Linked DNA regions of Homo sapiens. The protein of the gene in region 2 interacts with the protein of the main gene of each other region in a pairwise test. Each region holds a gene or a part of one and is shown on either strand. Other genes may lie near its edges. The genes, in order: ANGPT1 and MAPK8IP2.

The links.
Region 1: the proteins of MAPK8IP2 (region 2) and ANGPT1 interact in binary tests that used the Homo sapiens proteins (3 or more experiments, as listed by UniProt).

The regions. Positions count from the first base shown.
Region 1 is NC_000008.11:107,315,457-107,331,702, reverse strand, and holds part of ANGPT1 (angiopoietin-1 isoform 1 precursor), read left to right. Parts: intron 1-9,574; coding exon 9,575-9,807; intron 9,808-16,246. UniProt on the Homo sapiens protein: Binds and activates TEK/TIE2 receptor by inducing its dimerization and tyrosine phosphorylation.
Region 2 is NC_000022.11:50,603,437-50,619,682, reverse strand, and holds the end of MAPK8IP2 (C-Jun-amino-terminal kinase-interacting protein 2), read right to left. Parts: coding exon 16,185-16,246; intron 16,058-16,184; coding exon 15,964-16,057; intron 15,846-15,963; coding exon of another isoform or gene 15,843-15,845; coding exon 14,619-15,842; intron 14,316-14,618; coding exon 14,240-14,315; intron 14,122-14,239; coding exon 13,949-14,121; intron 13,859-13,948; coding exon 13,749-13,858; intron 13,026-13,748; coding exon 12,918-13,025; intron 12,763-12,917; coding exon 12,692-12,762; intron 9,472-12,691; coding exon 9,373-9,471; intron 8,977-9,372; coding exon 8,904-8,976; 3' UTR 5,705-8,903; downstream 1-5,704. UniProt on the Homo sapiens protein: The JNK-interacting protein (JIP) group of scaffold proteins selectively mediates JNK signaling by aggregating specific components of the MAPK cascade to form a functional JNK signaling module.

The DNA.
Region 1 (16,246 bases), on a different chromosome or scaffold from region 2:
GCTTTAACTTACTATTTCCAATCCTCCAACCAATCCTGCAAAGTATGTATTATTATTTCTATTTTACACTTAAAAAAAGCCCTGAGGCTCACAGAAATCAAGTAAGTTGCTTATGACCAAACAGCTAAGGATATGGCAAAATTAGAGTTCAAGTTCATGGTGATTCTCTGCCTTAATTATTATAAAAATATTTTTGCAATGTGATGAGGCCTCAAGTATAATTGATGTAGTTGTCAAGTTATTCTCTTAAAACAAACAAATATTCATTTGAAGAAAGGGGTAGACCAGTTGTTTTTGGCCTGTCACTATATAGGTCATTATTTAGTCCTTCTAATATTAGAGCAGAAGATATAAACTATTTATTTTACCTTGGGAATTCACTGAACTTATTTGACATGCTCATCTATCTTCTAGCTGGAGTTATGGGAAGTTATTAAGTTAATTAATTTTAAGTGATTGAAACATGTGCAACTTCAAGATACCAAATTATGCCTTACTAATTATTGCAATAAAATACAGTATTGATATTTAATGCTTAATATGCCTAAAGAAATGAAAAATGAAATCATAGTCTTTTAAATTAAAGCTATCTTTCATTTGATAAATTATTTACAAAATGCTAAAGTAACTTGCTAACTTCTAACATTAAACTAGGCTGAATTATATTAGTTGTTTATAACAAGGATAAAAAAGGTGACTTTTTGAATTTATATTATTCTAGTCTTTTTCTTGTAAATAGAACACCTACATACTAGAATGTTACCTTTTTTCCCTGTTAATTTTTAAAATAATATTTAATAGCATATAGCATTTTCCTTTTTTTAAATTATAATAACCGTAGTATCTTGGCATGAAATACAATTCTGATCAAATTGGAAATCTAAGGCTCATCTTAATTCTTCTCTTTCCCTAATCCCCCACAACTCACCAGTCACTGTTGATGCTATCAATTCCATCTTCTAAATATTTTTCTAATCCGTCCCATCCTTTCCATTCCCACTGACTATGTCTTAGGTCAAGCTGCCATGAATTCTTGTCTAGGCCACTGCAGTGACCTCTGGGTTTAAGCTATGTGCCACTCCAGTCCTTATCCAGAAGCTGTGCCAAAGTCTTCTTTCTAAAATGCAAGTCAGACTATTTTCCTCTATTAATTCCCTCTCAACCAAATGACAATTCTCTATAACTGATAGAAGAGAGTTCAAGTTCTTTAGCACACAATACAGTCCATGATCACTATAATCTTACTTTTGCAGACTTACTTCCAATAATCTTATTTTTTAGAGGATACACGCTAATAGTTAAGAGCATGAGCTCTGAGGCCAGACTGCCTGGTTTCACTTTTCCTTGATTCCTGGGATAATCGACTAAGTCACATATTATTTGTGTGACTTTGTGCAACTTACATAGACTCTATGTGTTTTGGTTTCCTAATTTGTAACATAACAATGACAATAATTGTACTGTATGAAGTTAAGATGAAGATTGAGTTAATGTGTGTAAATCACTGAGAACAGTGCCTGACATGAGCAGCAGTGTTTAATCATGTTAGTTGTTAGTATGACACTGAACACATGATGTTATTTCAGACATATTTGATGTTTGCCTGACATTCCTTATTCAACTCACAAATTTCTGTTCATCCTTGGAAACTCATTGCATGTGTCAGCTTCTCTAACAGTCCGTCTCTGGCTCTACCAGATAGATTTGCTCATTATGACCTATGTGATAGCCCTGTACCTGTTTCCTCCCCATAATTTCACTTATCTGATCACATTATAATATATGTATGTTTCTGTGTGTGCATGTTTATTTATCTATATCCATACTATTAGGCTGTGACCTTCTAGGACACAGAGAATGTGTTTTATTTTCATTGTCTTCCTGCTCCCGGGCACAATTTTCTACACATAAGCATATTTAGTATTAAATGCATTTTGAATGCTAAATGAATAAGGAACTGGGAAATGTCCCAATAGCTCTAACCCAACAAATGCCATTTATCCATACGACACACAGAGACTCACACACACACAAAGACTCACACACACACACAACTAATAAAAATACTTATAGTGGAAAAAACAAATCATATTGTTTACATTAAATACTGTAAATCCATTTATCGTTTTCAACATGAATAAAATAGAGATCGTGTTTACACCACTATTCTGCATTGTCAAAAGCCCATTGCATGGCACTCAATGTTACTATTGTATACTCTGAGGTTCACTAATTCAGCCCACCTTTAAAATTTCTGGATAGCATTTGCACAGGCCATTCTAGACCTATGACTGTTTCCTCCATTTCTATGATAAATAAAAACAAGTAAGACAAACTTGTTGTATATACATGTATATTAAATTATATACATGCATATACAGTTGTAAGTCAAATTTCCCCTAATTCCACACCCCTACACCATACCACCTGCTAGCAGAGAATCATCATTAAGAGATTAAATTCAGTGCTTACTCTTCCAGATGTTTTCTCTAAACATACTAACATATGTGTATATATAGAGTGTGCATATTTATGTGTGTGTTTACACAGATGTACACTCATATATAATTGCACACATGCACAAGTACTTGTTTATATGATATGTGCATATATGTGTAGATTATTTTATCATTGGGGTTTTTTCTACTATTTATTTCATAATAATTTGTCATACATATATTACACATATAACCATAAACAGATATACCTCATTCATTTTCAAGAATGAGTAGCAATCTATTTTTATAGATGCACTATAATTTATAACCTATTATAAGTATTATTTATGTTAATAGATATATAATTTATCAAAACTATAATTAGTGATGTGATAATTTAAATTTTTTATAGATATTCACAAGTTATCTTCACATTTTACCTTCTCCCTAAGAGTACCTGGGCTTTCAAATTTCCCAAAACTTTGCTAGCCATCTAATTAATCTCGGCTTCTTCAGAAGTTAAGTTGTGCATGTTTTTGTGTGTATTAACCATTTGCATTTCTTCTGTGACTAGATTTCTTTTTCTGTGACTACATACTAGCCTATTTACGTATGTTTAACATTTTTTCTACTATATTGTTTATCCTTTTTTAAATTAACTCATATGAGCTCTTTAATGGATATTAAAACTTTGTAATATATGTTACAAAATTTTCTCTAGTTTATTATTTATTGTCCAACTTATTTTTTAATAGAAACATTACATCTCTGTGTTATGAAATGTATCAATCTTTTTTTTTCTTAGTTGCTGGTTTTTATAATACATTTAGCTTATTCTTCTTTACCCCAAACTTTACATTTATTTGCCAATATTTACTTATAGTATCTATGCTTCTACTCCAAATTTGAATTTCCAAACAAATATGATTTCAGACTTTGAGAGGAAATTTATTGCATTCCAATTAGACACGTAAAGTATAAATTTAACCTGAACTAAATCTGTGTGTATTTAAATGGGGAGAAAAATTACTCTTTACAAACCCATATTTGCAACACATGTTGACACCATACATGTTGAAAATAGTGGAAAATATTGGAACATCTGTAAATAGATTCAGACAGATAAAAATGAGGTTTCTATATTTTCAACATCTTCCTCCTTGTTTGAAGGGCTATATTTATACTCATAGAGCTTAGGCAACTGTCACCACTGTGAATTCATTGGCTGCTATGTTAAGAACTCTATTGTGGGAAACAATTTGAAAGGGATATCCTTTTCTGTGAAAGCTTCAAGATATGTTCAATGATTTGAAATATTTCCAATAAGATGTTGGAGAAGGCAGTGTAAAACAGGGGTATGGAGAAGTCTACCAGAAACTTCAAATAGGACTTGCTGTACACTCATTTAGAACCTTTTACTAAAGTTCGAGGCACAGATTATTTTGTTTATTTTATTCATTAAAGTGCACCTCTGCCTCAAATAGAAGCTAAGTGCCAGAATTCTATGCATGTCTCTTCTCAAAGTGTTTCCAGAAAGACGGGAAACAGGAAGTCCTAAGACTCCTGTGAGAAACTCTCTCCTTGGATTTCTAGCTCAATTTGTATAGATTTAGGTGCATGGTTTCATAAAGTGTTGTTCCATGGAACCCTAATCCTAAAAGAAGCATCTTAATAAAAACTGTTTGTTTAATATAGGCCTCCCTAAATCTTAACAATGAAACTCTTATTTTGCTTCAAAGAACATACTGAATATGCTCTAGGAAACAGTGCACTGGTGTTCAGTAACCATCCAGGTTTTGTGTTTAAAATGCAAACCTAAGCTAAACATGTAGCTGAGACTGTCATCAGGGAAAATCTGACTACTTTGACTATCTAACTTTAGGACACTGGGGCTGCAGTGTTGTCCTTCATATCAACCTCTCTATATAAAGATCCCCATGCTAGCTGAGGTGGCCACTCCCAACGGACCTGGATAACGAAAATAGTAAAGAATCAATGAAAGGCTTCAGGGACAAAATGAAATATGAGCAGTATATTAACAATATAATTAAAATTAACACATAAATTTAATGGAAGAGGTATTAAGACAGGGTAGTATTTAAGAAAATTCTAGTCCAGATGTTAAAAATCGACTTGACAAAGTAATTCTGTTTTTATACGTGGGAAAGATAAACAGGTTCAAATATTGTGAAGGATAAGCTCCCAGAACAACTAAATGGAGAGCAGCAAATATTAAGGATATGTGAAGGCAGTGCCTTGGTTCCTGGTATAACATGATGAATAAAAGGAATAGGAAGAGATTATAGTGTGTTAAGTCAAAGAGATGAGACTATAGGATGTTCATTGACACAGCAGTGGGATGTCTTGAGTAGATTTCCAGTCTAACAACTTAGAAGACATGGCTTTTTATTCCTGGTTCTGACACTTAATATCTGCATGATTTTGAAGAAAACATTTGATTCTTACCTATCCATGAGGGTCTGTAACATCTGCTCATTCTATGTTACTATATTGCTTTAAGAATCAAAGGAGATAAAGGTTTCAAATTGCTATATAACTATAATGGTGTGTTACAAGAATAAGATAATAAGTAGAGATGGTATATGGAGTTTTCTGGCAAGTGAGGTTTGCATTGAAACCATTTTGGAAGTAATGACAAGGAAGGGCTGACTTCCAAAGTAGATACTAGCCAATAAATGGGAGGAATCAAAGAGAAGAGAGCAGTCTTTTGGAAGCCAAATATGAAGAGAAGATGAAAAAAGGGGATGAGTGTAGTCAAAAGAAATGGAAGGGTCAAGAAGAGATCAGTCTTGCCTGAAGAAGTCTAAAAAGTTGTCATTAATATGAAAAATGTCCCTAATAAATAAAGTTGGTAGATAATTACTGAAGTACAAATGTTATTAAGGGCGCTCCAAGTGAAGAAATGTGATGAGAAAATGATGAGAAGAGATAATTAACTGGTAAGACTTGCCATTAGAGAAACAATGTAACATGTTTCCAATTTGCTTGTAGTTGTTATGCATATTACTTGGGTTTCCAAATCCTGTGGAATGTCTGTGCTGTAGAGTAGCCTTCTTAGTTCCATGGACAGTCTCTTTTTCACATTACATGCACTGTCTATTCTAAGATGACAAACTATATGGGTATCTTTTGATACCTGCTAGTAAGGGAGCATTAAAGGTTGTCTGATGAATTATGAAAATTAATGTTCTGTCTAACGTGCTAATGTGCGTTATATTATATATTATACATATTATGTATTCCTTTTACTCAGAAAAGCAGATCTTTTCCACAAGCCAGTGTCCAGAATTGTTTCCTTTAGTACCAGGACTTCTTTGATCTACTTTCCATTCTCAGCTCTTTCCAAGTTATCCTGAAAAACAAAACAAATCAAACAAGCCCACCTTCTTTACTGACATCTCAGATAGCAGCTATCTCTGCGCATATGTCCGCTTGAACAAGGAATACATCAAAAATAAACAGAAAAACACTGATGCAAAAATTTAAAAAAAAAGTATTATGTCTGAAACAGAAGTTTCTTTTAGCTTCTGCATTTTCATTTGAGGTTTTTATTCTCTAAAAATAAACCCTAGAGTAAGAATAGTGTCATTTTATATTTTACAGAATTATTGGCACTTAGCAACTAATAAATACAAATTATAACTATAGCATGATATTTTCCAAACCAGAATGTTACCTACTGATTAGGAAAACTGAAAGGCCAGTGCCCATCTTATTTCAAGTACAAAATGGTAATTCAGAATTTTTATCCAGTATTATATGACTATAACGTTCAAATTTTGATATCTACATGCTTGCCAGTTTAATAGGTAATGCTAAGTTTTCTCACTAGTAGACTATAACGCCTATGAATTTAAAAGGCAATTTTCTTATAAGTTAACAACTCTAAATTATGGGCATCTTGCCTCTGATCATTACCCCAGGACTAGCAAGAAAAGTAAATAAAAAGTAAACAGAGAATAAGCTAAGACACTGGTCGTGGTTAATTCTCAGATCTAAAGGCCAAAAATTAATGGGCACAGAGAAGATCTCCTTTGACGCCTACCCCAGTAGGTGGGATGAAACTTTTAACCAATAAAGATAGTGAAGAAGTTTTTTGTTTTTGTTTGTGTTTTACCACGAACTTCTCCAACAAAAAGTTACTGGCAAAGAAAAATAACATGGTAAAAGAAGATGAATCATACCTACCCCTTACAGATGTTGTTTTTCATCTTACACTGCTTACCTTGCCTAAGTTTTTCATTTCCAAAAGAATTTTTAAAAAATAAGTGATCATCACAGTTTCCCTATATTACTGTACCCAAGCTCTATCTAAATTGGGTTTACTTTATGATCGGTGCAGGGCAGGGCTCCTTTCTCTCTTGGTATTGGTAGAATGAAAGCAATTCAAAACAGAAATGGGACTTCTACTGCAGAAGTCACACAGTTTCTGCTAATGGGTCTCAATGAGAAACTTTCTTATGTGAATGTGTGCACACTACTAAAGGTATTATAAATTAGTAGAGTCTTAGCAGCCTCAGGTATTTTTCAGGCTTGACTTCACAGGCAGCTTTCCTGCCATATTCTTCGAGTACAAGTTTGTTGGCAAAGATTTGGAATGCCCAGGAGTAGTTCTGGCCACACTTCTTTTTCCTCTTCCTCTTCTTCTAAACAATGGAAATGTATTCTCTGAATATTCTGGAGGCTGAAAGTCCCAGATCAAGGATCAAGGTGCCTGCAGGGCTAGGCTCTCTCCGAAGGCCCTAGGGAAGACTCGGTTCCAGGCCTCTCTCCTACCTGCCAGTAGTTCCTTGGCTTGAGGCAGCAGTGCTCCAATCTTTACACAACCTTTTCCCTGTGTGCACATCTGATCTGTCTCTCAACATTTTCCCTTTTTATAAGGACACCAATCATAGTGGATTAGAAGCTCATCCTCCTCCAGGATGACCTCATCTTAACTAATTACATCTGCAACGAATCTGTTTCTAAATAAGGCCACATTCTTGACTTCCTGGAGGTTGGGACTTCACACACACACACACACACACATATATATATACATATATATACATATATACACACACACACATATATATATATACATATTTTTTTTTTTTGGCTGGGGGGCAAGCATGGGCAGGCCATAATTGAACTCGTAACAACCACTTAAAACAGTACCTGACACTGGCCGGGCACAGTGGCTCATGCCTGTAATCCCAGCACTTTGGGAGGCCGAGGCGGGCAGATCACAAGGTCAGGAGATCGAGACCATCCTGGCCAACACGGCAAAACCCCATCTCTACTAAAAATACAAAAAATTAGCTGGGCATGGTGGCAGGCGCCTGTAGTCCCAACTACTCGGGAGGCTGAGGCAGGAGAATGGCGTGAACCCAGGAGGCGGAACTTGCAGTGAGTAGAGATTGAGCCAAGATCACGCCACTGTGCTCCAGCCTGGGCGACAGAGCAAGACTCTGTCTTAAAACAAACAAACAACAACAACAAAAAGCAAAACAAAAAAACAGTACCTGACACATAGCAACCATGTCATAAATGAGAGGTATCATGACTAGTATGATTGACATCATCATCACCATCTACCATGCTGATCCATCCACAAGGTTTCTGGCATCTACCAGGATGGCACAGCTTCTGCCACATGGACTTCTCTCGATTCCCTCACAGTCTTTTATGCCATTTAAGCCTTGGACCCACACTTCTTAATCTGTGTAAAAGACAATCAGATGTTACACTTTGTCCCCCAGTACCTGGTGTTGGAAGATTTGGCTCTTCAAACATGCTCTATTTTATAATTTAAGTATTGAATCTAAAACACTCCCTAGTGTCCCCTTTTTGAAAGGAATGATTCAGTGCTGTATTTCTCCAAGGTAAATTAAGTGCCCATTCTGGTATGTGGCATTTTAATAACACCTTGTAAACTAAGGACGGGTTGAACCTTCTGAAAACAGAACTGAGAAAACCGAGTAAGCCTTTCCCCGGAGGAAAACTAGTATATTAGACACTCCATAAAATGTTAATGCTTTTTATTTCCAGTCAGTTGGTAGGCTCCAAAAATGCTTCTGCTTTCTCTATCATTTTTAATGTGCAATATACAAGGGGAATATCCTATAAAGAGCTCAGGGAGAAGGAAGGGCCTCAGTTAAAGATTTCAACACTCTGAGCAAAGCATCCCAACTCCTTTCAGAAGACCATACCATCAGCCAAAGGGAGTCTTCCTTTTGTTACCATTTATACAGTGACTTGGGAACTTGTAGTGTCATTAAGCCTCATCCTGAAGCTTGAGTTGAGAAATAAAGGAAGCTAGTGGTTATGATACAGGACCAGTTATCAAAAATCACAAGAATTCATTGTGACTTTAGATAGATCACTTTTGGCTCCTGTGGTTTCTGTGTCAATATAGTTTTCTTTTTGTATGTGTGTGTGATTGAGAATGTATATTGCTGTTTTTTCTTTTTTCACCTAACATATTTTGAGCATTTTCTAATATCCTTAAAATGATTAAAAATATTTTCAACAGTTTCAAAATAAGAGATTTTTTTCTTTCTTAATGTCATTGTACATAAACCTTTGTGTTTCTGATTATTTCATATTTTTCTCTTTATTTCTGATTTTGCAGATGGTCAATATACTATTCTTGATCCCACAGAACTATCGTGAAATTTAGTCAATGTTAACGTTTTGAAAACCCCAAATAAATGAAGCAAAGTGAATAAAAAGTAGTTTCTACGTGTTGTTTGTTTTTTTCCTGAACTATTCTGTTTCCTCTTAGGCCCATTTCTTTAGTGAAAGTTATACTATAACTTCTTTAGAGTGTAGCTATTTGGGTGTAAGTTAGCTACCTTGGATATAAGATACACCCAAGGAAACCAAGAAACTAAATCATAGTTAAAAGCAAACATTACTCTGACAATATCTGGTTTACTTATTTTTTATTTGACATGTTATATGTGTAACTCCTATTCTGAAGAATACATATTCTTAAGTCTCTCACTTAAAAATATTTTTACAGTGAAATGTAAAATTTCTCATCTTAAATAAATTCAGGAACCAATTGAATTATAAGGGTTTTTTTGTATAACATTTTTTCAAATCTAAGTTTTATTTTCACTTCCTTGTAGTTTATTAGAACATAAAATCTTAGAAATGGAAGGAAAACACAAGGAAGAGTTGGACACCTTAAAGGAAGAGAAAGAGAACCTTCAAGGCTTGGTTACTCGTCAAACATATATAATCCAGGAGCTGGAAAAGCAATTAAACAGAGCTACCACCAACAACAGTGTCCTTCAGAAGCAGCAACTGGAGCTGATGGACACAGTCCACAACCTTGTCAATCTTTGCACTAAAGAAGGTGGTAAGAATGTCTTCCTCACTTTGGTATTGTTAATATTTTATTTCCTTTGATCAAGTAAATACTCAATATAGCTTTCTACAGTGCATTGATTGCTGTGTAAAAAATAGCAGAAGAACTTTATGGTTAGAATCATTTATGAAGTTATGTTGATAATTTTCTCATGTTTCTACCTGGAGAATGTATTCATAAGCCTAAATTTGTGAATCCACAATGTCTTTCTGAAAGAGCTTTCTAATTTCTTCTTTCTTTGTCTTTTAACCTTAGATAAAATCTGTGATACTGTCGTGAATAAATAATTGGTATTATGGTGTTAGACACTTAACTATATATAGGACAGAGATGAGCCAATGTTAAAAATTAGTTCATAGTGCTGGGAGAGTTTCAGGAGGATTTCCATTTTTAAATGAATATTTATTATTTCCTTTTAAAGGGAATGGGGTAGGAAATTGTGGGTTGCAGAGAAACGGAGACAGACTATTTGAAACAAGTATTATGAGTGAGGCAGGATTATTGTTATTAAAAATGTTTATTAAGATCACTTGTGCTTAGTCCTGTGCAGGATAGATTTAATCAGGGTATTTAAGTTCATTAATTCTGGGGTATCTTTGTGACAGTGGAGATACAAATTTTTGATATCACTAGAATGTCTGGAGTCATTGAACCTTTGGGAATATCTACAACCCTGTATTTCTTTAGAAGGCATACATCTGTCTATCCATCCATCCACCTAACAATTATTGAATGAATGCCTCTGCTTGCACCTGTTTCCTTCAAGCAGAACCTCTAGTGAGCCTCAGTAGAGCTCTTCAAAGTTTGGAACTTGAAGTCATCTTCTGTATTTCTCTAATCAGCCTTTCTCTGAATGAAGATGGAATTGTAAATGGTGATGAGTGAAAGAGAATACCACTTACATCTGCAAGTTGTTGTTATTAAGCTGTGGCTTATGTGACCATTCATGAAGTGGTTCAGTGAGCATATGCAATGTACACATGGGGAGGCTCCTTTAATTTAAAAGTGGATTTGAGCTATGTGACAAATTTGTTCAATTTCATGCTTTCATCTATAGTTATGAATAGGGAAGATAACTCCATATTAAGTGATTTTGTTTTAAAGACATTTCATATTTCTCTATTACACTCCATTACCTCGAGTTATATCTCCTTTAGATAGTCTAAACAAGCCTTTAATATGCTTTGTAAAGTAATATTTTTTAAACAGTGAGTTCCCAGAGCTCCATTTGGGTGTGCTCAGTAATGTGGTTGGGAAGGGAAAAGCCTGCTAATCAGTCAGACTCTGCCAAAATCTTGAGTTAGAGTCCACTGGAAGGAAAGCATGGTAGTATTTTGCCAGAGAATTTTAATAGAACTCATGAGTATTTAACGATTAAGTATTAATACAAGTTATATCTATTCTCATATTGAGCTGAATACATTTTGGGAAAGATTGAAAACACATTTTTCTTATCATCCTAAGACTTAAAGCACATGGAGTGGAATAGTGGTTTTTATTTCATGATTTTAGGGATGTCAAGCCCTAGTGATTCTCACAGAGCTCATATGTCTGCGTACTTATCATAATTTAACTTCTTTTCTGAGTATTTGCCTAATAAATGTGTCTTTAAGCTTTTAGAGGAAGAGGATGTGACTTTAGAAGTAAACATTCTGGCTAGGTTTCAACTTTGGGCGCAATATCAGGGAAGCAAACATCTGTTCAATTTAAGAAACATTTTTGAAAAATGAGGATAGCCATGATAGATGGTACCCTTCATAGCCATTCAGGAAGTGAAAAAAGTAACTGTGTCTGTTCTATGATGTAGTATATCCAAAAATAGTAATAATAATCATAGAAACTGAATTTGTCTAAATATTCCAGGCCTCTAGATATCTTTTCTTTTTAATGACAAAACTCTGAAATGAATCTTGATTTAACTACAGGATTTGCCATCTTAATTTAAGGTGATTGCCTAATTTTCCAATAGGTTCTCTGCTGTCATGACCATAGATTTTATTTGCTTCTTGTTAATCTCTTTTTTCTTTAATCTTACTGTTAAGCGTTCTAACTAAATATTTAGTTACTTTTAGAACTCATAAGAGACACAAAAGTGGAAAGTGGCTCTCATAAGGTTTTTATGAAGATTTTCATTGTCTGCATATCTTTATTTTCACTGGAGCCTTAGTCGTTGGCTATGGTGAATTTAAAATTTTAAATGGCTAATAGCATAATACTAGATTGAATATCAGTTATTAAAATGAACTTTTATTCAAATTCTAAAACACATGGGTAAAGCCTTTCTTTGTTTTATGACCAAAATTTATATATCATATAAATTTATTATTTATTGAAGGATTATATGTAAATATTTTACTTATAAATTTATATATATGCAAATATTTCAAAATAAGCATACCAGAATAAACGCATCAAATATTCTAAAATGTACATTTTAAAGCTCAAATATAGGTATTCTACAAGATCTTAAAAAACACGAGCTGTGTCGTCATCCAAAAAGCCAAACATTTTAATTGACCCTAAAAGGTCTTCTGGTTTCAATCTGACCCACTAATCTGTGGAGACAGCCTGAATATAATACTGCAAGGCCAGACTAAAAAAATGTTAATGAGCTTCCCCTGTCATTGGCAACCAGTTTAACCTTAAGGAAGCTGTCTCATCATGTATAAAGTCAGGAGAATTCTGTCTATTTCACCACAATAGGGAAAGAATTACATTAGATGCTCAATATACAAGCGAAGATCCCATTGCTGAAGACACAGTTGATTCATTAAACTTTAGTTTCTTCTTTCTCCTTCGATGGACAAGATTCAGTTAAGTACATTCATTATGTGCTTTATAAGCAAAACTTCCTCTGCAGAAAATGTTTAAATACAATGCCCCGGAGTGTTTGAGTGTTGACAGTCATCCAGGCAGCTTTTTTGGCCTCCATTTTCTGATCTCTAAAATGGGATCATAATATCTACCCGGTAGGTATGTAGTACACCATAAATATATACAACTTTTGTCAATTATGTAGTTCAAAATTGCCAAAAAAGTGGATTGTAAATGTTCTGACCACAAAGAAATGACGAGTATGTGAGGTAATGGATATGTTAATTAGCTTGATCATTCTGCAGTGTATACATGTACCAAAACATCACGTTTTACTCCAAAAATATATACAGTTATTATTTGTCATTAAAAAATTCAAATTTAAAAAAGAAATAGAGGGCCTAGAATAAATACATACATAAACAAGTAAATGAATTAATTTCTTAAATGTTGAAATATTAAAAGAGGTTAGTATAAAACGCATAGCTTCTGTGTTAAGTCATAGTCAACATTAAAATAATCGTAATTATCTTTATTTTAGTGCCTTCTAAAATGCCTATAATGCATTAAAGTTATATGATAAAGAATTCCTAGGAAGTGTTGGCTAGACATGTACTTTTTTTCCCAAACATTTGTTTGATCCAGAAACTGTAAATCTATCTTTGCATTCAGAGAGTGCTTTTGTTTAGTTTCACAGCACTTTTTCTACTAACACATCTGATGTTGTGAGATACTTTTAAGAAGGACAACTAATAAACACATTATCTGAAATAATTCACCAAACTTTCCTCTTCTTATTCCTAATAGACAATAATGGTGTCTTAGGCAAATAGTCAATTCAAACTGAATTGCATCCACTTTGTAAGGCTTCTGAGTAACACATTTATTTTTGCCTAACCTTCATCTGCAAACATTGGGCCACATTTATTCTTAGAAACATTATCCACTAAAGAAATATTGCCCTCAGTGTTATCACAATGTCAAAGCTCAGCCTATTGCTTCATGTTTTTGGCAATTCAAAATTACCAAAATTAAATATTTGCTGGAATTAAGTAATTTACATTAATAAGGCATACAAACAAGGTTTGGAATCTTTCAGGGGAGAGTAATCAGTTACTGTGACTATTAAAAAACCACTAGTTGGCCAGGCGCGGTGGCTCATGCCTGTAATCCCAGAACTTTGGGAGGCCAAAGTGGGTGGATCACTTGAGGTCAGAAGTTCAAGACCAGCTTGGCCAATATGGTGAAACCCCATCTCTACTAAAAATACAGAAATTAGCTGGGCATGGTGGCACATGCCTGTAATCCCAGCTACTCAGGAGGCTGAGGCAGGAGAATTGCTTGAACCCAGGAGGCGAAGGTTGCAGTGAGCTGAGATCACGCCACTGCACTCCAGCCTGGGCAACAGAGTAAGACTCTGTCTCAAAAAAAAAAAAAATAAAAATAAAAATAAATTCACTGGTTATCTATGTACACTGGTGATTAAAATGTCATCTCATGTTGAGCATACACGTGGCAAATATATAATTGGGAATTTAATTACTAACAGCATGTAAAAAAAGGAAGGAAGGAAAAAAGAAAAGAAAAAGTTTTTAAAAAAAGTATTTAGACTGTATTATAAACTTACATAGTCTGATTGTCTCACACTGCTCAAATCAGCTCGAAGCTCATTTCTGCTGTAGCAGGATGTGGTTCATAAATTTATCCATTCATTCAAAACAGTTCTGCAGCAACTGTTCTGTTCTGGGGAAATGATATTTATTCATTTTTATTTAACAAATATTTGGTAAGTTTCTATAATGTGCCAAATATTGCTCAGACTACTGGGAAGAAGAAAAGATGTATTTCATTCTGTGGCTTTAAGGAACCTAGGGTTTGATAGGAGAGAAAAAAGTAAACAATTATTTTTCAGAATTATTTGCTAGAAGTGAGCCTAGGGTGCCTGGACCCGAGCAAAGCTCACAGAGAAATATTAAAATCATGGCAGGAACAGAAGGATAAGGGCAGAATCCAGCATCTCTAGAGTTTTCTTGGGGATTTTACTGAATCCTTATTATGATTCTAGTTTGCTTAGGCTTTCCACGTGTTAGCCCTTACAACAGCAACATGAGGGAGTTACCATGTCTAGCATAATTTTATAACCTCTACAGAGAATTTGAGAATTTGCCCAAAGTTACAAAGCTGGAAATCATTGATCTAGGATTAAAATATAAGCAAGCTTGTTCTAGTGGGAAGATGATAGTTAAGTCTAAAAAATGAAGAAAGTGAAGGACACACCAGAGAGTACAAACGGCATGTTTATTTTCCAGAAGTCATGGGAGCGGGCTGTAGCCTAAGTCTTAAAATGAATTTAGAGAGAGGATCTCTGAGGGAGACCAAAAAGGCCACATTTTTTCTATAAAATCAATGAGCAGTCATTGTCAATATATGATGATAATGGTGATATTTGTGTTTTACAAAAATCTCCCCAGTGACAATGTAGGAAAAATATACTGTAAAGCTGAGAAGCCTGGAGTAGGGGACCAGATGGGTGCTTTTACCGTTATTATAATATCAGCAAATACTTGACACAAGCCAGTCTTCTGAGACCTTTGCATATATTAGTTTATTTAATTCTGGTAACAACACTGTATGATAGGTTCTATTACCAACTCTATATGAAAGGTAAGCTAAGCACAGAGAGGTGAATAATGCTTAAATATCACACTACTAGCAAGTGAGCAAGCTGAGATTTGAACCCAGAGTCTTGTTCTGAATACTGTACATTACACGCTGCACCATATTGGACAGGGAAGGTAGAGTTGATGATTTTTGTCAGAATTTCAAAGTGATCTCTAGGAAAGAAATAGTAAGGTCCATATTAAACAGGGGTAAATGGAAAAGTAAGTGGAAGAAATTTGTAAAAATAGAAAAATTAGAATCAGCAAGAAATAATGACTTCCTAGAAGTCTAATCTAATACCAATTGCACATTTCTAGGTTAAACAACTGAGGGAGCATAGATCACATTCTTTAAAACCAGCAACATGGGAGATGAAATAGATTGGAAGGGAAAAAATAGTGAGTTTTAGTTTGGGATATTTTGACTGAGTTGCCTGTGGGACAGAGTCTGGCAGGCAGATAAATCGGATTCTAGAAGGAGAACAATGATTTGTCCTCAGAGGAGACAAGAGGTAAAATCATAGAAAGTGCATATAAAGCAATGGCTCTTATTCATGTAGGGGTCACAGATCCATCAGGAAACCAGATGCAAACGGCTATTTTTCCTTTCCACTTACCCCAACCCCAAAATGCAAGGATATAAGCACACATTTGTGTACAATTTGAGAGCATTTACATACCAAAGTTATGAGTGCATTGTATGAAAAAATGACAGTGTAAAATCAAAGACAGAAAAATTTGAAGGTTTTTAAGGGACAGGTTAAAAAAAAGAGACCGAAAGAAAAATATAGACAGTGTGAAAAACAGTAGTAAGCAGTGTTTTGGGAAGGTTTAAAAAAAAAGGACAGTTATGAAGGATGTTCTTTTCAGTGGCAAGTAAGCATGACAGTCAAGTTTTTAAAAAGAACCTTCTGTATGCAGAGGTTTGGTATGCTACATGGCTCAGTTGCATATCT
Region 2 (16,246 bases):
AGAGCAAGACTCTGTCTCAAAAAAAAAGAAAGAAAAGAAAAAAAGAAAAACAAAGAAAGAAACTGTGGCAGCCTTATTGCTGTTTAAGGAGAAAGTTTAAGTGGTCTGCATAGAAGATCAAACAAGCCAAAACATTTCCTTAACCCAAAGTCTAATCCAGAGCAAGGCCCTAATTCCCTCTGATTCTGTGAAAGCTGGGAGAGATGAGAAAGCTGCAGGAGAAAAGCTGGAAGGTAGCAGAGGTTGGTTCATATGGTTTAAGGAAAGAAGCTGTCTCCATGATGTAAAAGTGCAAGGTGGGGCAGCAAGTGCTGATGGAGAAGCTGCAGCAAGCTCTCCAGAAGATCCAGCTAAGGTAAGTGATGAGGGTGGCTACAGTAAACAATAGATCTTCAGTGTACGCAATTTTTTTTTTTTTTTTGGAGACGGAGTTTTGCTCTTGTTGCCCAGGCTGGAGTGCAGTGGCGCAATCTCGGCTCACTGCAACCTCCGCCTCCCGGGTTCAAGTGATTCTCCTGTCTCAGCCTCCTGAGTAGCTAGGATTACAGGCATGCGCCACCAGGCCTGGCTAATTTTGTATTTTTTGTAGAGATGGGGTTTCACCATGTTGGCCAGGCAGGACTTGAACTCCTGACCTCAGGTGATCTGCCTGCCTCGGCCTCTCAAAGTGCTGGGATTACAGGTGTGAGCCACCGCACTCGGCACCATCTGTGACTTTCATAGCTAGAGAGAAGTCAATGCCTGGTTTTAAAGCTTCAAAGGACAGTCTGACTCTCTTGTTAGGGGCTAATGCAGCTGGTGGCTTTAAGTTGAATGCTCATTTACCATTCTGAAAATCCCAGGGCCCTTAAGAAAGATGCTAGGCTGGGCATGGTGGCTCACGCCTATAATCCCAGCACTTGGGGAGGCCGAGGCGGGTGGATCACGAGGGCAGGAGATGGAGACCATCCTGGCTAACACGGTGAAACCCCATCTCTACTAAAATTACAAAAAATCAGCTGGGCGCGGTGGCGGGCACCTGTAGTCCCAGCTACTCGGGAGGCTGAGGCAGGAGAATGGCGTGAACCTGGGAGGCGGAGCTTGCAGTGAGCCGAGATCGCGCCACTGCACCCCAGTCTGGGCAACCGAGTGAGACTCTGTCTCAAAAAAAAAAAAAAAAAGAATACTCATGATTCACAGGAAGAGGTCAAAATATCATCATCATTAACAGGGCTTGAAAGAAGTTGATTCCAACTCTCATGGATGACTTTGAGGTGACAAGTCCAGTGGAGGAAGTAACTGCAAATGTGTTGAAAGTATCATAATAGCAAGAGAATTAGAGTTAAACGTGGGCCTGAAGATGTGACTGAATTGCTGCCATCTCACGATAAAACTTGAACAGATGAAGAATTGATTCTTATGGACAAAGAAAGTTTTTTTTAAATTTTCTTGTTTATTTATTTATTTATTTATTTAGGTAGAGATGGGGGTCTCACCATGTTGCACAGGCTGGTCTTGAACTCCTGGGCTCAAGTGATTCTCCTGCCTTGGCCTCCCAAATTGCTGGGATTACAGGCATGAGCCACCGTGCCTGGCTGAAAGTGGTTTCTTGAGATAGAATCTACTCTTGGTGAAGATGCTACGGACATTGTTGAAATGACAACAAGGGATTAGAATATTGCACAGGACCGAGTGTAGTAGCTCAGGCCTGTAATCCCAACACTTTGGGAGGCTGAAGTGGGAGGATCGCTTGAGACCAGGAATTTGAGACCTGCCTGGACAACATAGTGAGACCTCATCTCTCCAAAAAAACGTTGGCTAGGCACCGTGGCACTTGCTTTAGGTCCTGGCTACCCGGGAGGCTAAGGTGGGAGGATCACTTGAACCCAGGATATCGAGGCTGCAGTGAGCCATTATTGTACCACTGCACTCCAGCCTAAGTGACAGAACAAGACCCTGTCTCTTAAAAAAAAAAAAAAAGAATATTACATAAACTTAGTTGATAAAGCAGCAGCAGTGTTTGAGAGGGTTGACTTCAATTTTGAAAGAAGTTCTACTATGAATAAAATGCTATCAAACAGTGTCACATGCTATAGAGAAATATTTCATGAAAGAGTCAGTGTGGCAAACTTCATTGTCTTAATAAATTGCCACAGCTGCTCCAACCTTCAGCAACGACCACCCCGATCAGTCAACAGCCATCAACACTGACGCAGTACCTTCTACCGGCAGAAAGATTATGACTCACTGAAGGTGGAGATGATCACTGGCATTTTTTTAGCAATAAGGTGTTTTCTTTTTTTTTCAAAACAGAGTCTCGCTCTGATGCCCAGGCTGGAGTGCAGTGGCATGATCTTGGCTCACTGCAGCCTCCGCCTCCCGGGTTCAAGCGATTCTCCTGCCTTAGCCTCCAGAGTAGGTGGGACTACAGGTGCGTGCCACCACGCCTGGCTAATTTTTTTTTTTTTAAGACGGAGTCTTGCTCTGTCACCCAGACTGGAGTGCAGTGGCGTGATCTCGGCTCCCCAAGTAGCTGGGACTACAGGTGCCCGCCACCAGGCCCGGCTCATTTTTTGTATTTTTAGTAGAGACGGGGTTTGACCGTGTTAGCCAGGATGGTCTCGATCTCCTGACCTCATGATCCGCCTGCCTCAGCCTCCCAAAGTGCTGGGATTACAGGTGTGAGCCACTGAGCCTGGCCACGCCTGGCTAATTTTTTATATTTTTAGTACAGATGGAGCTTCATCATGTTGGCCAGGATGGTCTCAATCTCCTGACCTCATGATCCGCCTGCCTCAGCCTCCCAAAGTGCTGGGATTACAGGTGTGAGCCACTGAGCCTGGCCACGCCTGGCTAATTTTTTATATTTTTAGTACAGATGGAGCTTCATCATGTTGGCCAGGATGGTCTCAATCTCCTGACCTCGTGATCCCCCCGCCTTGGCTTCCCAAAGTGCTGGGATCACAGGCATGAGCCACCAAGCCCGGCCCTATTTTATTTTATTTCTTTTGAGATGGAGTTTTGCTCTTTTTGCCCAGGCTGGGGTGCAATGGCGCAATCTCGGCTCACTGCAACCTCTGTCTCCCGGGTTCAAGCAATTCTCCTGCCTCAGCCTCCCAAGTAGCTGGGATTACAGGCGCCTGCCACCACATCTGGCTATTTTTTTTTTTTTTTGTATTTTTAGTAGAGATGGGGTTTCACCATGTTGGCCAGGCTGGTCTCAAACTCCTGACTTCAGGTGATCCACCCACCTCGGCCTCCCAAAGCGCTGGGATTACAGTTGTGAGTCATCGTGCCCAGGCTCAATAAGGTATTTTCAAATTAAGGTATATACTTTAAAAGCTATTGCACATTCAATAGACTACAGTATAGTGGAAACATAACTTTTTTTTTTTTTTTGAGACAAGTTCTCACTCTGTCATCCACACTGGAGTGCAGTGGTGTAATTACAGCTCACTGCAGCCTCAACCTCCCAAGCTCAAGCAATTCTCTCACCTCAGCTTCCTGAATAGCTGGGGCTACAGGCACATGCCACCACACCCAGCTAATATATATATATATATATAAAATATGCATGTATTTATATATATTATATACATGTATATCTATATACTACATACGTGTATATCTATAAAATATACAGGTATACAATATATATACAGACCGGGTTTTTTTATGTTGTCCCTGCTAGTCTTAAACTCCTGGGCTCAAGCGATCTGCTTGCGTTGGCCTCCCAAAGTGCTGAGATTACAGGCATGAGCCACCATTCCTGGCCAACATAACTTTTATATACGCTGGAAAACAGAAAATTTGTGTGGCTCACGTTGTTGCAATCTTAGTGTGGTGGTCTAGAACCAAACCTGCAAAATCTCCAAGGTATGCCTGCAGCGACCTCTGCTATTTTGCTTTTATCTTTTGCCTTAAATTCTTCTTGATTCCCCTAACCTCCCTCTGCCTTCAACCCTCAAGTAGAAGGGAGACTGGAAAAAATACACCAAAATATTAGAAACAGTTATCTCTGGGCCATAAAAATACAGTTGATTTTAGCCTTTCTTCTATCATCTGCAGTCTCCAAAATGTCTATGATATGTGTTACTCTTTATAGGGAACGTAATTTTTTTTTTTTTCTTTTAGACAGAGTCTCACTCTGTCTCCCAGGCTGGAGTGCAGTGGTGCGGTCTCCACTCACTGCAAGCTCCGCCTCCCGGGTTCACGCCACTCTCCTGCCTCAGCTTCCCGAGTAGCCGGGACCACAGGTGCCCACCACTATGCCCAGCGAATTTTGTTTTTGTATTTTTAGTAGAGACGGGGTTTCACCGTGTTAGCCAGGATGGTCTCGATCTCCTGACCTGGTGATCCACCCGCCTCGTCCTCCCAAAGTGCTGGGATTACAGGTGCAAGCCATCACGCCCAGCCAGGGAAAGTAATATTTTTAAAAATAGGGAAATCCTACTTTTATAGTGTTTATAAAAATAATAACTTACTCAAGCACTACCCTTGGCCTGTCTGACTGGCAGATTCATTTAAGCCTTATGATAACCTTATGGGGTGGTATTTTTATTGTAGCCAAAATAACTTTTTTGTTTGAGTTTGATTAATTTATCTTAACTTTTTTATCTTTAGTTTTTCTGTGGATATTTCCATTTGCACTTGGAGGTCTCTAATAAGTAGCAAATAATACTTCAAAAAATTAAGACATATTTGCTGCAGGAAAAAAAGGAAGAGAAACACCCTCAGCTCAACTTCAGCAAAAATGAGGTGGTTTTTTTTTTTTTTTTTTTTTTTTTTTTTTTTTTTTTTGAGACGGAGTCTTGCTCTGTCTCCCAGGCTGGAGTGCAGTGGCGCGATCTTGGCTCACTGCAAGCTCCGCCTCCCAGGTTCATGCCATTCTCCTGCCTCAGCCTCCCGAGTAGCTGGAACTACAAGCGCCTGCCACCACACCCGGCTAATTTTTTGTATTTTTAGTAGAGATGGGGTTTGACCGTGTTAGCCAGGATGGTCTCGATCTCCTGACCTCATGATCCGCCTGCCTCAGCCTCCCAAAGTGTTGGGATTACAGGCATGAGCCACTGCGCCCGGCCAAAAATGACTTTTAACATTTTTTGTGTTTCAGCATTTTTCAACATATAGTTTCTAGAATGCTACATATGACCCTGCCTATTTTCTTTCTTTCTCTTTCTTTCTTTCATCTCTCTCTCTCTCTCTCTCTCTCTTTCTCTCTCTCTCTCTCTCTTCTTTTCTTTCATTGTGGTTACAGGGTCTTGCTCTTTCCAGCCAGAGTGTGGTGGCATGATCATGGCTCACTGCAGCCTCAACCTCCTAGGCTCAAGCTATCCTCCTCCCTTACCCACCCAAGTAACTGGGACTACAGGTGTGTGCCACCACACCTAGATAATTTTTGTATTTTTTTTTTTTTTTTTTTGTAGAGATAGAGGTTTCGCTTTGTTGCTCAGGCTGGTCTCGAACTCCCAGACTCAAGGGATCTGCCCACCTTGGCCTCCCAAATTGCTAAGATTACACAGTAGCATGAGCTGCTGTGCCCAGAAATTTATTTCCACTTAATAGCATAACAGAAATTTTCTGTGTAATTACAAACATTGGAACTTTTTTTCACATCTACCCAATATTTCAATTAGGTAAATATACCTTAATCAATTAACCCTATTGGTCAATATTCAGATTACTTTTATGCTTACATTATTTCAAAGAAGAATGCAATAAACACTTTTCTGTAGAACGCGTTTTATTTAGAACGCCATCCTTGGGCTAGATTGGCGGAAGTTGGAGGCGTCATGCAGCGCCTCCTGCCTGGGAGCCAGGCGATCCGCCAGGTTCTGGGAGGACCTAAGGTCAACAGCCACGCCTGCTCTCTGGGCTCACAGTCAGCAGCCGCTACCAGGAGAGCAAGTCCTCAGAAGGCCCGAGACCAGGGCCCGGGAGCGCCCACAAGGACGGGAGGTCACCCAGTGACAAACAGGGAAGGGCAGCAGGTGCGCCCAGGAACCCAGAGGCTCCCAGAGCAGAAGTGGGATGCAGGGGTGGGGGCGGGTCATGCTGAGGTTCAACAGGGACCTGCTTCCTGGTTCAACAGGGAGCTGGCCAGAGAGAGGGATCTGCTGAGGCTTCTGTTTAAAAACCCTGGCCTGGGTGTGGGTGCAAGTGGATTTGCAGGTGCAGTGAGGCAGCGGCCGGAGCAGGCTGTTGCACGAAGACCCAGGAAAGTCAGGGTGGTTTGATCCAGGCAGAAGAGGGGGAAATGGAGCCTGGGGCAGACGTAAAGGTGCTGGGGTGAGGATAAGGGTGACAGGAGGGAGGAGTCTGGGGTGACCAAGGCCTGCAGCTCAGGTGACTGGGAAAAAACATAAAACAGAACACAGATGAATGCAGGGGTCGGGACGAAGGCTCCTGTGAGTCTGAAGTGACTGTGAGTGGCACCCTCTGGCCAGCCACAGTGGCTCTCACAGCTCATTCTGCAGAGCACCGGCCCAGTGATGAGCCGAGGAAGTGCCCCTGGAGGTCAGCTGGATCTGCCCAGTGGTCTGCACAGGGGGCGGCTGCCAGGGGCCTGAGCACAGGGAAACCCTCGAAACTGTGGGAGGGATGAAGCCAGAGAGGTAGACCCCAGAACCGACCAAGCCCAGCATGGGGCGTGGAGGGCGGCCAAGCTCAAGAAGACCATGAGATTGGAGAAGGAGCTGCAGAGAGGTGGAAGGCAGACAGGCGAAGGACTCACGAGCACGTCCAACAGCCGTCCTAAGGGCCGGCTGGAGGGAAAGAGACCTGAAGACACGTTGGGGGGCGGGGCCGGGCAGGGGCGGGGCCAGGCCGGGCAGGGGCGGGACGGGGGCGCCGGAGGGCAGGGCTTGGAGAATTCTCACCTGAGTGGAAGAGCAGAGGGAGGAGGTGGGTGGGTGGCAGCGGTTTCCAGGCAGCAGCTACAGGGGACTGAGGGCCACACCCCGAATGCCCTAGCCCAGGGGGCACAAGTTTCAAACGTACACACCCAGTGGGGCTATCTGCCTCTTTACAGCTTTATCTCAATTAGTAGGAAAGTTTTCTCATAAACGTTCTGCGTTTCCGTCGTGCCACTGGTCTGCGTCCTCGGTCTCTCTGGGGCCTCAGGTCTGTGCGCTGCACACGGGCTGAACCTCTGGATCATGATGCACTTCCTAACACTGGGCAGCTATTTCTCTGCTTGTTGGCTCTGTGAAGACGTGTTTTTTACGGACAGCACTTTCTAATGTTTATGTAGTAAGTTTGTGTATACTTCCCTTAGCTCACTAAGGAACCTTCAACTGTTGTCTTCCTGGTGTTGCACGAATCCTGGGCTCAGACAGAGGGACCCCGGCCATGCTGACCCCTGCCTGGGAGGCGGGCTCACCCAGGAGGGCCTGGGAGGGAACATTGCCGGGCATCTGCAGTCACCTAAGCACATAGTGAAAAAGTCACCTATTTTCTTCTGGCTTTCTCTGGAGAATTTTTTAAATATCCATTTTAAGATCTAAGTAGATTGTTTTTCTTTTCCTTTTTCTGAGACGGAGTCTCCCTCTGTCGCCCAGGCTGGAGTGCAGTGGTGCAATCTTGGCTCACTGCAACCTCCGCCTCCCAGGTTCAAGCGATTCTCATGCCTTAGCCTCCTGAGTAGCTGGGATTACAGGTGTGCGCCAGGACACCTAGCTAATTTTTGTATTTTTTGTGGAGATGGGGTTTCACCATGTTGGCCAAGCTGGTCTCAAACTCCTGACCTCAGGTGATACGCCCCGGCTCGGCCTCCCAAAGTGTTGGGATTACAAGCGTGAGCCACCGTGCCCGGCCAGATTGTTCTTCAAGGAGTTCATGCCCCCACTACACACTGACCTGAGCCGTGCTGGCCCCCAGTCCGTGCACGTGGAAAGGACACCCCATTGCACAGCCTCGGATTCCTCTGTGGCCAATCGAGTGTATCTAGGGAGAATTCCCAAGGGTGCTTCTAGATACGGCACCTCAGATAAGGCCCCAGAGCAGCACCGCAGGGACCCCCGGCACAATTTCGGAAAGAGCTAAAAGGGTGAGATTGCCACAACACTCCCGCCACTGGGGACTCTGTCCCTACCACAATGGGCAGCCCCTGGGCACCTGGCCCCATGTCTTAGCACCCTCTAGAAACAGCCAATGTCACACCAAGCAGAGAGTTTATTGAGGCCATGGGCAGGGCCCAGGAACACAGCACGGGGCGTGCGTGGGGTGGATGCACGCTGGACTGCAGGGGTGCGCTAGCAGCGGCAAGCGGAGGGGTATTGGGGGCCCAGGAGGGCCCCCCCTCCTAGCAGCGTCTAGGGGCTTCAGGTGAGCATCAAGAACCACTCCTAGCCTCCGCAGGGCTCTTTTGGGAACCCCTCCCTGCTTCCCCCTGAGCTCCATGTGGGGTGGGGCTGGGGCGAGGGGGCCCCTCTTGTCCCTGTGGTCAAGGATGGGATGATCCCTTGAGATTCACTATAAAAATTAAAATTCCCTTATAAATCGCAGGGGAGTGGCAGGAGGGCATCACTTGGAAGCCGACATTACCTGTCCCTAGAGCCGCACCTCCTCCACACCCCCGAAGTTCTGACCCCAAAGTGAAGAATAGAGGATAAGGTTTGCAGGCACAGAGAGGGGCAGAGACACCAGGAGAGAGAAAAGGGAGACTGGGAAGGGAAGGAGGAGGACAACACAGAGAAAGAACGGATCTGAGGAAAAGCAGGGGCACGGGGGCTCCACTCCCCCGCAGCCCCAACAGCTGCGCCCTGGGGACCGAGGACGAGAGTTCCCAGCCCGCAGACCCCCACAAGCGTAAGGTCCCATGTCCCCCCAATCCAGTCCTTGCCAAAGCCATGGTGGCCTCTTGAGACATCCTCAGCCCCAGCTGCGCCTGGAGCAGACGGCCAGGAGACAGAGCGGTGGGCAGGCTACTCCAGGTAGATGTCCTCCGTGGGGCAGGCGTACGCCAGGTGCTCTTGGTAGTACTCCAGGAAGGCGCGGCTGGGGAAAGACGGTCCTCCACCAGCCACTCAGGGCCGGTCCTCAACCCCCAAACTGCCTTCCACAGAGCCTCTGAGCTCTCCCTCCTTCCTCCCTCTGCAGCCATCCATAACCCCCCACCCAGGCATGGCCATGTCACCCCCAAGTGTGACCCTCAGCTCTCCTGGCCCAGCAATTCTACCCCTGCCAGAGTGCCTGGGCCATGTGTCTGTGCCTGTTCCCACCCCATGCCCAGCACCCCAAACTGTCACCCACCACTGCCCTCTCTACACAGCACATCTGGTTCTCCTTCCCCAGACCTCCCCTGCCAGGCTCCTGCCCCCACCTGCTCACCTCCGCTCCCCACCTCCGTAACCCTGCACCCATTCTGCACCCACACCCTGGGGCCCCACTCACCCCACACTCTGCGCCACCGGCCTCATGGACTCCTGGGAGACAAAGACGTGGCAGGCGAAGCGGCTCAGCAGGGGGTGTTTGGTGATGAAGCCGAAATAGCTGCGGGCAAGTCAGTGTGGAGGGCACGTCAGAGCCCTGGCCCAGCCTTGGCCACCCCACAAATGATGTAGAGAGAAGAGGCAGGAACAAAGGGCTTGGGGAGAGGGTAAGGGACAGGAGTGTGGGGGTCGCACAATTTCAAGATCTGAAGTTGTCTTTTTTTGGTTTCAGCCCAAGCACAGGGCTGGGCACCTACCAAGAGTTCACGCTCTGAGTTAATTCCATGATGACCAGGGGCGTCCACTCTCCCTTCTCTGAGCCGGTGCTGCTACCCTCTGTGGCCCTATTCAGGGCCTGCCCCAGGACCACAGAGCAAGGCCTCTGCCTGGCTACTGGAGACCATATCTCCTGCCAACTCAGGCCTCCTCCTGCGGGCCTAGCAGACTGACAGCCCCTTGCCCAGCTCCGAGGTGGGGCTGGACGTTACCCCTGGTCTGTAAAACCCTCTTCCGGTCTACCCCTCGCTCCCACTGGAAAGCAGCTCCTTGCGGGGCCTCGCTCATGGAGTCACTGCCCAGCTCCTCCACCCAGACATTAGCAAAAATCAAAAATCGTCGTCCAGAGGGAGAGGCAGGCAGAGTTCTGCAGCAGGACGCTGCCCCACCCCCACCCCTGAAACTGGCCGACCCGTCCATTCCCCCATGGCTTCGGGGCTTTGCGATTCCACCAAATGGGAAGCCACATGATGGTCTGCTTGCCAGGACAGTGTGTGCACGCTGTCCACAGACAGAGCACAGGGCCCGCCTCAAATGCCGCGTTCAAGTCATGATGGTAATAAGCGCCGACCCACAGATCTGGCTTCCTGCATTACTCAGGCACCATCCTCTGCCCTTTCCATTAACTCACAGAAGCCTCACAACAGCCCTCTGAGGTAGGGCCCTGATGGAGAGCTAGGCACAGAGGTTCAGGAGCTTGCCCAGGACACACAGGCAGGATGGGCAGCCCTGGGAGAAAAGGCTACAGTCTGTGATCCCAACACCAGACATCCTAATGCCAGATCCCAACACAGCACACCCCACGCTCTCCTGACCTACCACCACCGCCATGAAGAAACGAGTTCATCGTTCACCTCACACGGTTTCGTCCGTGCCTCCTCGTGGCAAGGGACCGGGGACGGGGGGTCTGGGGTGACAAATATTAGGAAGGTCTGGGCCAGGGCAGCAGCTCCTCCACCTCCTCCCACACCCCTGCCACATCTTGACTCCAAACCCCAAACTCGACTGACCACCTTCCTCTCACGAAATTCTAGCTGGGGCCCTGTCCAGCCTGAGACCTGAGCTTCACCCAGTTTCCTTCTGATGAGAAATTTGGGTCATTCTTCCTCTCCTGGCAGCGTCCGCTGTCCCAGTGACCCCAGAGCTGTCCCCACTGTCTGGTCTGCGCCCCGTCCGCTGTCCCAGTGACCCCAGAGCTGGCCCCACCGTCTGGTCTGCGCCCCGTCCGCTGTCCCGGTGACCCCAGAGCTGGCCCCACTGTCTGGTCTGCGCCCGTGCCCACTGTCCCACCTCTCCACCCCAGAGCTGTCCCTGCTGTCTGGTCTGCGCCCCTGCCCGCTGTCCCACCTCTCCACCCCAGAGCTGTCCCTGCTGTCTGGTCTGCGCCCCGTTCGCTGTCCCGGTGACCCCAGAGCTGGCCCCACTGTCTGGTCTGCGCCCCTGCCCACTGTCCCACCTCTCCACCCCAGAGCTGGCCCCGCTGTCTGGTCTGCGCCCCTGCCCGCTGTCCCACCTCTCCACCCCAGAGCTGTCCCTGCTGTCTGGTCTGCGCCCCGTTCGCTGTCCTGGTGACCCCAGAGCTGGCCCCACTGTCTGGTCTGCGCCCCTGCCCACTGTCCCACCTTTCCACCCCAGAGCTGGCCCCGCTGTCTGGTCTGCGCCCCTGCCCGCTGTCCCACCTCTCCACCCCAGAGCTGGCCCCGCAGTCTGGTCTGCATCGCTGCCCGCTGTCCCACCTCTCCACCCCACTGAGCAGCGTTTCCGCATGGATCCCATCAGACCATCTCTGCACTCGGCGGGGACAACACAAAAGGGCTCCGCACCTTCCAGCAGGCAGCACCCTCACTCTCGACCACAGGGAGAGTCCACAAGGCCCCCAAGATGCACTGACGTCTGTCCCACGCCTCAGTCCTGGCAGCACCGTGCCCTGCTGTGTCTTGCCTGTCTGTGAGCCTGCTTCCTCCAACTCCCCGCAAGTCCTTTCCAGCCTCTGGCTGGCTCTGCCTCTCTGGTTCCTCCCAGATCTCCTTCCTCTAGGGTGCTGGGACACAGAGGGCAGGGGCCTGTGCCTGGAGGGAAGCTGGCAGCCCCCCTTGGCCTGCTGCTCCTATGCCAGCACCTCCTCCTCCCCTCCTCCCCTCACCCTGCCTGGCCATTCCCCTCTCGTCTCAGTGATCTACCTGCTCTGACCTGGTATCTTCCCTCCAGGTCTCCCTCCTAAACTCCAGACCCATGGGACCAACGGCCACTTCAGTCTCACCGTTTGTGATTGATCCCGCATCCCCTCTCGGTGTGTGGGCTGCAGTACAACCATCCCCCAGGGAGACGTCACCCTGGTCTCTTCCAGGTCACCCTCTACAGCCGGTCAACCTAGGTCCTGCCTGTACTGCCTCTTCAGTGCCTCTTGCATCTGCACACTTGGTCTCAGGACATAGCACCTGTATAACCTCAGCAGCCCCCAGGTCCCCTGTGTCACCTCCTTCCATTAGGAGCCTTCTATGGCCTCATTACCAGCAAGATTAAGTACAGCTCCTTGGCATAATCAAAAGGGTCCAGGTCTTCCCCGGCATTTCTAGCTGCTCCCCTTACACGCGGGCCCCAGAGCCTATATAGCCCCCGACCAGTGCATCCCACACCCTTGGCTCAGCTAGACCCCACCAGGAAGATCCACTTCCCCACCGCTGTCACCTGCTGTGTTTCCAGGCTGGCCATCCTGAGCCCCAGGCCCACTCAGGCGTCCTCTGCACCCACACAGGCTTCTCACATCCTTCGCCCGTGTGCCTCTCTCCACCCAGACTGGATGCAAGCCTGTCTGACCCACGCCTCCTGAGTCCAGCTCAGAGCAGGCGCCACTGCAGGCTCAGCTCACAGAGCTAAGTGGGTGCAGGTGGAGCTCTCAGGGCTGGGCACGGGCAGCCCTCAGGGTCTGTGGGGACTCAGGGGGCGGTTGGACTCTCAGGGTTTGTGGGGGCGGTTGGGGGACTCGGGGACGGTCAGACTCTCACCAGCTGTTGCGGGGATGGCAGCCGCAGAAGGAGATGTTCTTCATCTGGAAGAAATGGCTGCAGCGCTGGAACTAGAGCAGAGGTGGGCAGAAGTCCCTGTGTCAAAGGAGGCCTGGCGCCACCCCTGCCTCCCACCTACTGGACACCCCTGCCAGCCTGGCCCCGTCGGACTCCGTGGCCTAACCCTATCCCCCAGTCCCCGGTCCCCAGTCCCCCACACTCCCACCTCGGGCCCTCCTCCGCTCAGACTCAGCTTGACCCCCCGAAGAGAGATCTCGAGGTCACAGGAGGCAGGAGGGCGCAGGTGGACGGTCAGTTTCCGGGCAGTGGCAATCTACAGAAGAAGTTGGGGGAGAAGAGGGTCTTGAGGAGCCCACAAGGGCCTTTCTTTCCCCTTGGTGGGACTACGCCTCTGCTCCTTTTAGCTTATGTTTGAGGACACACATGCTGAGGACCCTGAGATGCAATTCTGGAAGACATAAGGGGTGTGGCCTTGGCCACTCCTCAGGCTCAGGAGGAGCAATCGCCTCTCTGCAGTCAGCTTGCTTCATCTTCCTTCTGCTCCTCCAGGCAGGCTGCTGCGCTTGGCTCAGGAGCCAGGAACAGAGACCTCACCCGCCCTGGGCTGCTCTGCCCTGCTCCCTACTGCCCCCCAGCCTCAGCCTCAGTACTGGTGCCTGGGCAGGTGCTCACTAAACGTCCACTGAGTGAGTGGATGAGTAGAGGGCTCCCAGGGAAGGGGCTGTGAGGGCTGGTCTTGATTCCAGATGGGAAGAGGAAGGGCTGATGGCAGTCGGGGCCACCTGGAAGATCTGTGGCCCAGAGACCCAGAGGTGATGAGGGACAGCTGCTGTGCTCTGCCCTAGACTCACCTGCTCAGGCCTCTGAACCAGGGCCTGGGGTACCCACCCCGAGCTCCCCCTGCAGCATCCCCCAGACCCTCCCTGGAGGAAATCAGACCTCAGACCTTGGAGCCTCAAGCCCTGTGCCAGCCTGCAGTGCTGGTGTGGCCGCCAAGCGGACCCTCAGCCTGCACTTGCCCGGCCTCCACACTGACCTTCTGCATGGCTGCACACAGGATGCCGTTGCCCTGGTGGCAGGGCACCTCCACGGAGCCCAGGAACTGCACGTCAAAGCGCTCCACCCAGCAGGGGCTCCGCTTACTCCCTGGGGAGCGGGGCACAGAGGGCCCAGGTCAGGCAGGGGCACAGGGGAGGATCTGGGGTGAAAAGCCTCCCCTCGGGGTTGGGACCTCACCCAGCAGGTCCTTGGCAGGGCCGGGCACCGCATGGGCGTAGAAGGCAGGAAACACACCGCGCTCCCCCGTGCGCATGTTGAAGCCACGGAACCAGAAGTCGTCCTCCTCGGCCTCCACCAACACAGGGTCATCCACATCCAGCTCCAGCTCGTCTGGATGCCGCGGGATGAACCTGCCGTTGGGGGAGAGGTCACTGGGGAGGGGGGCGGGATTGACGGTCGTGTCCACTGGCGTTCCGTGATGGCAGGGACTGAGGCTGGGGCCACCGCCAGCAAGGAGGGAGGCCGTACCTGAACACAGCCCGGTGAGTCTGCTCTCGCTCCTCGCCGTTGACCAGACAGGAGAAAAGGCCAAAGGACTCGGTGCCTGGGAGACCCGGCAGGACAGAGGCGGGGGAGACAGGGAGACAGAGTCAGAGTAGTGCTTAGAGGCCTGGCCTTGGGCAGAGGCCAAGTCCCCTCCACAGTCCGGTGTAGGTGTCCTACGAGCGGGAAGGAGCTGAGGCAGAGCAGGCCACCTCATGCCATGTCCTGGGTGGGAGAGGGCACCCAGCCCTGACCACAGCCAGACCCTCAGGTGGCCCTGGGCACTGTGGGGGACCCTGGGACTGGGGCCAGGGAGTCTGCACCTTCCTCTGGGCCACCCCCCTTTTCCCCACCTCTCACTCACTGGAGGACCGAGATGTGCTGTTGACGAAGACATTGAGGAACTTCTTGGAGAAAGTGAGGTCAGGGCTGTCCGGCGAGGTGTCCCCCGAGACCTGACCGCCGCCTAGCAGCGCCGCGCCCGCCTCCTCCTCGCTGGCCTCCCCGCCGCTGTCCTCTTCGCTGTCGTGGCCCAGCCCAGCACAGCGCCGCAGGCTCACCAGCTCCAGCTGCGTGTGCTCATCCACCACCAGCGTGTACTTGACCGCGTCGTACACCAGCGACGCGTCCCGCGGCGCCGAGGGGCCCGTGCCCCTGCCCCCGGGGGACCCCGCACTGTCCTCGGCATCCTCCTCTTCCTCGTCGTCCTCTTCGTCCTCCTCCTCGGAGCAGGCGGCGGAGCAGGCTCGTCCCGGGCGGGCGGCGCGGCCGGGCGCGGCCCACAGCGGCGTGATGGTGTCACGCGTGGGGTTGCTGAGGAATAGGCAGGGCCCGGGCTGCGCGGGGCCGGGTCGAGGCGCGGCGGGCGCGGGCGGCGGCGGCGCGCACAGCGTCTCCATGTCCACCAGCTCCACGCCGCCGGGCCCCGCGGCCGCCTCGGGGTCCTGGGAGTCCTGGGCGGCCCCGCCGGCCGGCGACACGGGCTCCCCGGGCGGGCGCGGCGCAGGAGACAGGCACTGGCCGGGGCAGCGGATGGGCGAGGAGCCCTCGGAGATCATGCGGCTCACCAGGTTGCTGAGCAGCCAGGGCGAGTCCGCGTCCTCGCTGAGGTCCGGCTCCGACTCCGACCCCGACTCGTACTCGCTGTTGGTGTCGTCGGGGCCCACGGGCAGGAAGGCGGGGCGGCGCGGGGGTTCGCGCGGGGGCTCCGGCTCCGAGGCGGGCGACGAGGCCTCCTCGATGGAGTTGGTGAGGTGCGAGGAGCGGCCGCTGCTGCTGCTTCCGCCATCGCTGCTCAGCTCCAGCTCCGTCTCCGAGATGGACGAGATCATGCGCCCCAGGCGCGCGCCGCCCGCGTCCTCCGAGTCGGAGCCGGGCGAGGACAGCTCCTGGCTGCTGCGACGTCCCCCGCGGCCGCCGCTCGAGCGGCTTCTCAGGTCAGCCTCGATGCCGGGATCTGAGGAGGGCGAAGTCCCCCCTGGCGCAGGGGGTTCCGCAGGCCGGTTCCCTTCGCAGTCGCAACCCGGGCGCACTGGCGACTGCGCCCCGCCGGGCCCGGTGTCCGTGGCAGGGAGGGGGCCCGGGAGCTCTGCTGGGCAGGGAGGTGGGGTCACCCTCTCTGCACCACCCAGGCCTCTTCCAGCAGCCAGTCCATCCTCCCTGCCCTCCTCCCCCGCTTCCCCGCGCCCCGCGGGCCCACCACCCCTCACCTCTGAGGGCCTCCGGGGCGGGTGAGCATAGCGCTGTCTCCTGCCAGGAGGCCGGACGCACCAGGTCAAAGCCTCCGTTGTTGTTTAGGGAGTCCTGGGGTGGAGATACATGACGGCGGTCCTGAGGAGGGCCAGCTCCCAGGGGGTGAGCAGGGCTGGCTGCAGCCCAGGTGCTATGAACCCAGGCTCAGCTCCAGGGAGCTGTGGGTCCGGGCACTCACCTGGGCCCCCAGTGTGGTCAGACGGAGGGTGGTGGGCCGGTGCTTGTGGGGCTCCTCCACGG